Linked DNA regions of Homo sapiens: region 1 is linked to region 2. Evidence: fine-mapped expression QTL. A gene starts in region 2. The other region holds a variant in brackets. All regions are shown on one strand. Distances are from middle to middle. Region 1 overlaps LOC105372441 (a long non-coding RNA gene). Region 2 holds the start of KLK4 (kallikrein related peptidase 4).

Region 1 (5,221 bases), 69 kb before region 2:
GTTGCCCAGGCTGAGATTGTAAAAAGTCATCATGGAACACCCCACCTCCCAGTGCAGGAAAGCTGGCTGTGGTATTGCCAAGAATGATGTTTATTGCAGCACTATTCCCAATAGCTAAGATTTAGAGACAACCTAAGTGTCCATCAACAAATGAATGGATACAGAAAATGTGGTACATATACACAGTGGAACACTATTCAGCCATCAGAAAGAATGAGAGCCTGTCATTTGCAACATGGATGGAACTGGAGGTTATGATGTTAAGTGCAATAAGTCAGGCACAGAAGATAAACTTCACAGGTTCTCATTTATTTTTGGGAGCTAAAAATTGAAACAATTAGCCGGGCACTCACACCTGTAATCCCAGCACTTTGGGAGGCTGAAGCAGGTGGATCACCTGAGGTAAGGAGTTCAAGACCAGCCTGGCCAACATGGTGAAACCCTGTCTCCACTAAAAATACAAGAATTAGCCAGGCGCAGTGGCGCGTGCCTGTATTCCCAGCTACTTGGAAGGCTGAGACACAGAAGTGCTTGAACCTGGGAGGAGGGGGTTGTGGTGAGCCAAGACCTCTCCAGTGCACTCCAGCGACCTGGGAGACAGAGCGAGACTCCATCTCCAGAAGCCTGGAGAAATAGGGACAAAAAACAAAAACAAAACCAACTGAGTTAATGGAGATAGACAGTAGAAGCATAGTTATCAGAGGCTGGGGAGGGTGAGGGTATGTGGGTAGTGGGGAAGTGCGGATGGTTAATGGGTACGAGGAAATAGAATAAGATCTAGTATTCGATAGCACAACAGGGTGACTGTGGTCAATAATAATTTAATTGTACATTTAAAAACAACAAAAAGAATATAATTAGATTGTTTGTAACACAAAGGGTGAATGCTTGAGGTAATGGATACCCCATTTACCCTCATGTGATTATTACACATTATATGCCTATATTAAAATATCTCATGTACCCCATAAATATATCCACCTGCTATGTACCCACAACAATTACAAATTAGCAAAAAAAGAATAATGTGGCTCTTGCCAGGTTTCAGCTCCACCCTTGCTGTGTGTGTGGCGCGTTGCGTCCCCAGGTCCCTCTCAGTGGTCCGTGGAGAGCATTACCACCTGTCACTGTCTACTATCTCAGGGCAGACCCTCTCTCCTCTCTCTTCCTCCATCTCTGCACCCCACAAATAAAGTGGCAACCCCCCCGATGTGTGTCTTTGCAGAACCTGAATGTGATGAGATTGCCAGAAAATGCCAGTGTGCCCCTGGATGGGTGGAGGAGGGTGGGGCGGGTGGAGGGGACAACTTTGCCCCATTGGGGAACCACTGGGCTATACCTGTCACTGAAGCTTCCTTTCTCCCCTGCACCTGACTCCACACCTCAGGACGCAGGTCAGGAGGGCTGGGGGATGCTCTAGCCTTGGCCAGGTGGGCCTGGAGATGATTGTTCACTGCAGGAGCATTCACCTTTTTAGATGGGTGCTTCCTGTCTAGAGAAGGAGACACGGGGAGCTGGAAAGAGAAGCCTGCAGAAATAGGGACCGGGCAAAAACAAAGGAGGGTGGAGTCGGGGAGTGTAGAAGAGATAAAGTAAGGACTGGAGTGAGGAAGAGGCATCAAAAGAGGGAGGGAATGGTGAAGGCAGAAAACCGTGAGAAACGGGGAGTGAGAAGATAGCATGAGAAAGACAGGATCAAGTCAGGCGTGGTGGCTCACGCCGGTAATCCCAGCACTTTGGGAGGCTGAGGCGGGCGGATCATTTGAGGTCAGGAGTTTGAGACCAGCCTAGCCAACATTGTCTCTACTAAAAATACAAAAATTAGCCAGGTGTGGTGGTGTGTGTCTGTAATCCCAGCTACTCAAGAGGCTGAGGCAGGAGAATCGCTTGAACCCATGGTGGGGTGGAGGTTGCAGTGAGCCGAGATCGCACCACTGTACTCCAGCCTGGGTGACAGAGTGAGACTCTGTCTCAAAAACAAACAAACAAGCAAACAAAAAAACCAGGTAAACTGAGGCTGGGTTTTGTATCCCAGACCAAATGCCTGCACTTTGAATGCCTGGTTGGGAAGCCTGAGATTATCCTGTAGGGAAGCATCGAGAGCATGAACTGAATGGTGTTAGGAGACAATTATCCATGGCTCTCTTACCTTTCTGCCTGTCTCCTGAAAAAGGTATTAGCCACTTTTGAGTTCCAGATTGTCTTTTTATGGATGTTTCTCTAGAGCATCAGAGCATGTTTGTTCACTGTCTTAGATAATAAAGATAATGTCCTTCCATAATGATTTATTTATTGGCTAGGATAGTAAATACAACATGTCCTTCCGGGGCAGGTGGATCAGCAGTCCGA[C/G]ATAACAAAGATAATATCTCTCCGAGTTTCAAAGTCAAGCAGATTTCCTTGCATCTCCCTTATAAGATTGAAGATTTGTAAATACATGTAAACAGAGGTTCCCCAGCATTGACGCAAACCACTGTGTGCGCAGCATCTGCCTGAGCCACTCTGATCATCCCTGTAGGACCTGGGGGGCAAGGTGAGCCCATGTGAACATGAATCTCATGCTGCCGGCTGTGCCATGAGTAATAAAGTCCTTTGTCTCTGACCCGGAGTTGTTGTGTGTTCTGCCAATAGTTTCACTGGATACAAAATTCTTGGCTGATAATTGTTTTGTATAAGGAGGCTAAAGACAGGACCACAATCCCTTCTAGGTTGTAGGGTTTTTGCTGAGAAATCTGCTGTCAATCTAATAGGTTTTCCTTTATAGGTTACCTGATGCTCCTTCATCTTGACTTTAGATAACCTGATGACTATGTGCCTAGGGGGGTCATCTTTTTTTTGTTTTGTTTTGTTTTGAGATGGAGTCTCACTCTGTTGCCCAGGCTGGAGTGCAGTGGTGCGATTTCGGCTCACTGCAACGTCCGCCTCCCGGGTTCAAGAGACTCTTCCGCCTCAGCCTCCCGAGTAGCTGGGATTACAGGTGCGTGCCACCACACCCGGCTACTTTTTTATATTTTTAGTAGAGAAGGGGTTTCACTGTGTTAGCCAGGATGGCCTCGATCTCCTGACCTTGTGATTGGCCTGCCTAAGTCTCTTAAAGTTCTGGGATTACAGGCGTGAACGACTACGCCCGACCAGTGGTCATCTTTTTGCAATGAATTTCCCAGGCGTTCTTTGAGCTTCTCATGTTTGGATATCTAGATCTCTAGCAAGGCCAAGGAAGATTATTCCCCTCAAATATGTTTTCCAAACTTTTAGATTTATCTTCTTCCTTGGGAACATGAATTATTCTTAGGTTGGTTGTTTAACATAATCCCAAACTTCTTGGAGGTCTTGTTCATTTTTTAAAAATACTTTTTTCTTTGTCTTTGTTGGATTGGGTTAATCCAAAAGTCTTGTCTTTGGGCTCTTAAGTTCTTTCTTCTACTTGTTTGATTCTATTGCTGAGACTTTCCAGTGTATTTTGCATTTCTCTAAGTGTGTCCTTCATTTCCAGAAATTGTAATTGTTTTTGATTTACGCTATTTCTCTGGAGATTTTTCTGTCCATATCCGGTAACACTTTTTAAAATTTCTTTAAGTTGGTATTCACCTTTCTCTGGTGCCTTCTTGAGTAGCTTAGTAATTGATCTTCTGATTTTTTTTTTTTCTGGCAATTTCAGAGATTTCTTTTTGGTTTGGATCCATTGTTGGTGAGCTGGTGTGATCTTTTTGGCGTGTTAAATAACCTTGTTTTGTCGTATTACCAGAATTGGTTTTCTGGTTCCTTCTCCTTTGTAGACTATGTCAGAAGGAAGATCTGGGTCTCAAGGGCTGCTCAGATTCTGGATTTAGCTACCCAGTGGAGCGTCTGCGCTCTGGGCTGGTACTGGGGGGTGTCTGCAAAGAGTCCTGTGATGTGATTCATCTTCAGGTCTCTTAGCTGTGGATATCAGCACCTGCTCCGTTGGAGGTAACAGAGGAGTAAAGTAGACTCGCTGGGGTTCCTTGGTTGTATTATTTTTTAGTGCGCTGGTTTTGTGTTGGTTGGCCTCCAGCCAGGAGACGGCACTTTCAAGACAGCATCAGCTGCAGTAGTACAGGGAGGAAAACAGCTTGCCCTAGGGTTACCTGGATAAGTATTCAGGTTTCTCAGGTGGAGGATGGGGCCAGATAGCTTCCAAGAGAGTATGTCCTTCGTCTTTGGCTACTAGGGCAGGTAGAGGAACACCATCAGGTGGGGGCAGGGTTAGGGGTGTCTGAGTTCAGACTCTCCTTGGGTAAGGGTCGCTGTGGCTGCTGTGTGGGGGTGGGGTGTGGTTCTCAGGCCAATGAGGTTATGTTCCCAGGGGAATTATGGCTGCCTCTACTGCATCATGTGGGTCACCAGGGAAGTGGGAGAAAGCCAGCAGTTTCAGGGCTCACCCAGCTCCCATGCAGCCCAAAAAGCTGGTCTCATTCCCACTGTGTGCATCCCCAATCAATGCACAGTTTGTTTGCAGGCAGCAGGTGCGCAGGGCTGGGAACTCGCCCCAGGCTACAAGCCTCCCTGCTGAGAAAGCAAGCAGGGCTTTCAGGTTTCGTGCCTCCCCACCTGCTGCAGCTTCTGTGCTCATGTCTGCACTCACAGTTCACCCCCTCCCCTGAGTTCTGTCCAGGAAACTTCGTGTTCAGTTGAAATTGTTGCAAAGTTCAGCTGGAAGCTTCCTTCTCCCTGTAGTCTTTCCCCAATTCCGTTGGCAGCCCTCCCCAAGGACCCCTGTGAGATGAAGTCAGAAATGGCTTCCCTGGGGACCAACAGTACCCTCAGGGCTCTTCCTGCTGCTTTCTCTACCCCCCGTATTTCATTCAGCTCTCTAAGTTCATCTCGGCTCCAGGTAAGGTCAAATCCTTCTCCCATGATCTGGACCTTCAGATTCCCCAGTGAGGATGTGTGTGCAGGGGCGGATGATCCCCCCTTCACACTTTTCACACTTTGAGCACTCACAGTTTTTCAGCTGTCTCCTGGAGCCTGCAGCAGCAATGTGCTTCCTTCAAAGGGTCTGTGGGTTCTCTTGGCTTTCCTGGTATGTTCCTGCAGTAGTTCTTGGAGCAAAAATTCAAGACGTGAGTCTCCACATGCTGCTCTGTCCATCTGAGTGGGAGCTGCAAGTTAGTCCTGCTTCCTAGCCACCATTTTCTCCCCACATTAGCTTTTTGACTTTTCTTTATATATATATATATATATATATATATATATATATATATAT
Region 2 (5,221 bases):
CACCCTAAGAGCTACTTAACCATGGTCTCAAATCCTCATTCACAAAAATTCAGGGACAAGAACTTGCCTTAGTTCACTAGAGACTCAGCACTGGGCTGAGATTTCAAGTCAGGACTCTCTGAGTCCTTCCGAAGCAAGATTCCCGCCTCCCAGCCCTTCCCTCTGGGGCTCCCCGGATCCAGGCTCATTCCGTCCTCCTCCCAGAGCCTTCACCGCTGTTTCCCCCTGAGCACCCCAAGATGAGCCTGATATTAGGCCCCGCCCCCGGACCCAGGCCCTGCCCACTCCCCCTACCTCTGCACTCACTTCTGGAAACAGTGTGCGGCTGACAGCACCCACTGCGGATGCACCAGGACGCCCGAGCAGAACAATTCGTTTTCCATGACCAGTGCCGCCTGCCAGGGCTGCGAGTGCGGGCTGCAGTCCTCGCCGTTTATGATTTGGCTGCAGCTACCAGAGACGAGCGATCCTGAGGGCGGAGTCAGGGATGGGATCGGGACCAGGAGGCGGGCCCAGGGTTCCTGGGGGTGGGCTTACCGAGCAGGGGCGTGGTCAGAGGTTCAGGAGCAGTCAGGGCTCCTCGGGGCGGAGTCAGGGCTGGGAACGGGCTCAGGAGGCGGGCCCAGGGCTCTTGGGGGAGGGGTTACCGAGCAGGGGCGTGGTCAGGGCTTCAGGAGCAGTCAGGACTCTTGGGGGGCCGAGTCAGGGCTGGGGGCGGGCCCAGGGGGCGGACCCAGGGCTCCTGGGGGTGGGGTTATGGTGCAGGGGTCATGATCGGAGCTTCAGGGGCTGGTCCAGGATATAGGCCTAGGGCTCCCAGGGGCGGTGATCACGGTGCAGGAGCCTGGTCAGGGATTCAGGGTAGTCAGGGCTCCTGGGAGGAGAGTCAGGGCATGGGGGTGGGCTGAGAAGGCGGGATCAGTGCTCCTAGGGTTGGGGTTACAGCGCAGGGGCGCCATCAAGGCTTCAAGAGCTGGGTTATGGCTAGAGGCAGTCTCAGAAGGTGGGACCAGGGCTTCTGGGGCGGAGTCAGGGCTCTGGGGTGAGCTCTGGAGGTGAGACTGGTGCCATCGCGGTGCAAAGCCACGGTCAGGAGGGGTTCAACAGAGGAGTCTAGGCTCATAGCAGTAGGATCGGGTCCTTCGGGGTGAATTAAAGCTCAGGGGGTGGAGTTGTTGCTGGGAGCAAGGATCGGGTCACTTGTCTGCGCAGACTGATGCTCAAAGAGTCGGTCCTGCGCCGAGTCACTCCTATCCTCTCCCAGCCTTGCCCACAGTCACACCAAGCCACAAGCCCATGCACACCAAAACACCGTTTTATAGTCCTGTGAGGTGAGTTCCTTGGGGATGGGAGAGGGGGATCTCAGGACTGAAGACCCAGGAAGCAGGCACAGATTCCCAGCAATGGATCACGCCCCAGGAAGCACAATCTCCTGCACCCTCGGCTTCCCCTGTCCCCATATCATCATTACACTGTTGTCACTCCACCAGATATTCAGAGGCACAAACTGTCAGAGTCTCACAGGTACAACCACACACCCAGGCACACTGCCACACACAAATTTACCACGATACAAGGAGTTGCAGGGGCACAGCCATGGGGGACGGATAACACGGTACCGTCTCACAGGCAGCTTTGCAGTCACAAGCAAGAGGACACTGAGTCACACCTGAACATTAACAAACACTGTGCCCCCAAGCACGGACAGACACACACACGCATACTCAGATACCTGCGACACCAAGGATGAGGTACCCCAGGAACCAGCCCCAGGGATTTCCTGCTGTGGCCATCACGTCAGCACCTGGGGATGAGGACTGAGACTTAGCCGTGTCTGGGGATCTTCAGCCCAAGTCTCTCCATCCCTCTCTTTGTCCCTCCCTTTCTTCCCTCTGGGACGTTATTAGGTAGGCAAGAGCCTAGACCATCTACCCCCTCTCCCATCCATGGACCCAGAACCTAGAGAGACAGATTTAGAGACTGAGAGAGAAAAAGAGAGAGAGAGATGGGAAAAGAGAGAGAGAGAGAGAACTAGGTAGAAAGGAAAGTTTAGAGAAAGCATCTAGCCATCTGTGAATGGGGAGAGATGGTGTCTAGCCACCCACAAACAAGCATGGAGGGAAGACACACAGAGAATCAGAGCCGGAGAGACAGAGTGCTTGAGAGATATCCTCAGAGACAGTCTGAGAGTTAGACATGGAGATATAGATTCAGAGAGACAGAGAGACCCCTAACTAGAGACAGTGACTCCTAACTAGAGACAGTGAGAGATCTGTCTAGAGAGATGTGGAGACAGAAGGCACAGAGGCTGAGAATCCAGCGACATGGAGCTGTAGGGAGAGTTGGATCATGAACACTGCAGGCTTTTAGTGGGGGACCACCAGGCCTCTTACCCGGCCACCTCTGGGCTCCTGGATTCCACTGCTGGGCTGAGCTCCAGCCTGCTGCCTCCCGCAGGGGCCTCCTTGGGGCTTATAAGCATCCTCAGCCTGGGCTGGCCTGCCCCCAGGGGATGTGTTCCAGGGGTCAGGTGCTGCAAACTTCCAGCTCAACTCTCTCAGGCTGCCTCAACTCTGACCAGGCAGTGGTTGGGGGCCCAGAAGGGGCTGGCAGCAGGGTCTAGGGACCCAGGGAGGAGACCCCTGCCCAGATCCTAGACTCCACTCTCCTTTTTCTTTCTCTCTCTCTCTCTCATTCTTTCTCTTTTCATGTTCTTATTCTCTCTCATGAGATACCTCTCTCTTGCCTGTATCTCTCATTTTCTCTTTCTCTTCTTCTTTCTTTCTCTCATTCTCTCTCTCATTATTTTTCTCGTGTTTTCTTTCATTTCCTCTCATTCTCTCCTGTTCTCTCTCATGTTCTTTCTCTTTTTAAATTAAATCTCTCTCTCTCTCTCCCCTCCTCCTTCATCCCTCTCTTTCTGTGCTTCTCCAGCAAATTTCCCCAGGTTCGTATCCAGCCTACATCACGAACTATTTTTGGAACCTTGGGCAAGTGACTGCACCCCTGTGAGCCTGTTTTTCCAACTGTAAAACTGGAGTGACCATTATGCCCCATTTCCCAAGTGGATTCAAAGAGGTAATTCAGGGAAAGGCACACAGTGCCAGGCACATTGTAGGCTCTCGGTGAGCGGGAGAACTAAAAAGTCTTCGCTCAGTGAAAAGCAGCTGAGTGCCTACCACACTCCGAGCTCTGCGGCAGGTGCTGGGGCCACAGGAGGAACCAGCAAAGTCCTCGTCACTGGGGATCGCGTCCTACCCGGGGGCACAGACCATAAAGGAAAACTGCAGGGACCAGCATATAAGGTGGTGGTCGGGGAGACTCAGAGAAGGGGAACATTTAAGCTGAGATCCCAGGGAAGAGGAGGAGGAGGGTCGCCGCAGCAGGGGCGGTTGCGGGGTGCAGGGGAGAACTTGGCTCCAGCCAGAGGAGGGCAGGGCGGGTAGGAGGGCAGGGCGGGTAGGAGCGCAGACCGGGAACCGGGCGGGCCTGCAGGAGTTTACGTACCAGGATTAAGGAGCTTGGGTTTTACTTAAGTGCAATGGATTTTAAGCACGAGGATGGAGTGACATAATCTTATTTACTTTTTAAAAACTTCCAGCTTGGAGAGTGATGGTGGGGGCGGGGCGGGGGGCAGTGGCAACAGCCCAGGTGGGAGGTGACGGGGTCAAGGGAGAAGAGAGGTGAATGGACACGGGGTCCCCTCTGCATGTGGAGCCAAGTTACTGCCCGATGGATGGAAAGTGGGGGGCCAGGAGCAGAGGGGCCAAGGATGGCGTGGAGGCTTGGTCTGCTGGCTTGCGCTCTACGGATCTTGTGGAGACGCATAGGTGCGGGAAGGGGGGTGGGGGGTGAGAGGGTGCCGTAGACCGCGGAGGGTGCACGGAGGGGCAGGCCGAGGTCAGGACTGCCGAGAAACAGCGGGGACTCATCAGGGGAGAGGTGGTGTTTACAGCCACGAGGCCGGGTGAGATCATCCAAGGAGTGGGTGGGTGTAGACCGCGGAGCCGGCGCGGGTGAGGGATAGTGCCCGCAGGTGACCGCGACGAGGCAGGAATGTCTCTGTGTCTCTCTGTCTCTCCTGGGTCTCTAACACTCTTTCCTTCTCCTTCCTTACTTCTTTCCCCCACAGCCCACCCCGTGTGTCTGTCTCTCTTTCTCTCTGGCTCTCTTTTCCTCTGCCTCTCTGGTCCCATCTCTGTCTCTCTCCCCCTTGTCTCTGTTTCTCTCACCTGCCAGACTGGAAGCATCCCAAGTGAGACCCTCCCCCAACTCTGTCCTGGGCCCGTGCGCCCCCAGATAACTCTGGGCAGGACGGGACATAGGCTGGGACCACAGAACAGGAAGCCCTGGCAGGTTTCTGTCTCTGTCTCTCTTTTCCCTGTCCCTGTCCCTTTCTCTCTCTGATCCCTTCTCTCTCGCTCTCCCTCTGACCTCTGTCTGTGACCCTCTGATCTCTGTCTGTCTCTGTCTGCCCCTGTGTGTCTCTCTTTCCTCCTGTCTCTGTCTCACCTTGCCTTCTCTCTCTGTCTGTGTCTCTGCACCTGTGTCTGTCCATCTTTCTCTGTGTCTCTCTCCTCCCATCTCTGTCTCTGTCTGTGGCTCCGCACCTGTCTCTGTCCATCTTTCTCTGTGTCTCTCTCCTCCCATCTCTGTCTCTGTCTCTCTGTCTGTCTCCGCACCTGTCTGTCCATCTTTCTCTGTGTCTCTCTCCTCCCATCTCTGTCTCTGTCTCTCTGTCTGTCTCTGCACCTGTGTCTGTCCATCTTTCTCTGTGTCTCTCTCCTCCCATCTCTGTCTCTGTCTCTCTGTCTGTGTCTCCGCACCTGTGTGTCTGTCCATCTTTCTCTGTGTCTCTCTCTCCTCCCATCTCTGTCTCTGTCTCTCTGTCTGTGTCTCCGCACCTGTGTCTCTGTCCATCTTTCTCTGTGTCTCTCTCTCCTCCCATCTCTGTCTCTGTCTCTCTGTCTGTGGCTTCGCACCTGTCTCTGTCCATCTTTCTCTGTGTCTCTCTCTCCTCCCATCTCTGTCTCTGTCTCTCTGTCTGTGTCTCCGCACCTGTGTGTCTGTCCATCTTTCTCTGTCTCTCTCTCCTCCCATCTCTGTCTCTGTCTCTCTGTCTGTCTCCGCACCTGTCTGTCCATCTTTCTCTGTGTCTCTCTCCTCCCATCTCTGTCTCTGTCTCTCTGTCTGTCTCTGCACCTGTGTCTGTCCATCTTTC

The links. PIP is the estimated chance that this variant, and not a neighbour inherited with it, causes the effect.
Region 1: its variant is fine-mapped to the expression of KLK4 in lung (TOPMed, PIP 0.99).

Annotation. Positions count from the first base shown.
Region 1 is chr19:50,839,963-50,845,183 of GRCh38, forward strand. All of the region lies in intron 2 of LOC105372441 (a long non-coding RNA gene), which reads left to right. Among named protein-coding and RNA genes, the nearest start is that of KLK15, 9.0 kb to the left of the region's middle. RefSeq lists a silencer at 458-645 and enhancers at 3,931-4,453, 4,454-4,975. The variant C/G (reference allele first, on the strand shown) is at 2,350.
Region 2 is chr19:50,908,946-50,914,166 of GRCh38, forward strand. KLK4 (kallikrein related peptidase 4) reads right to left here and starts at 2,450. Exons shown (of 6, transcript NM_004917.5): 1 at 2,394-2,450; 2 at 1,733-1,804; 3 at 307-469. The coding sequence starts at 1,793.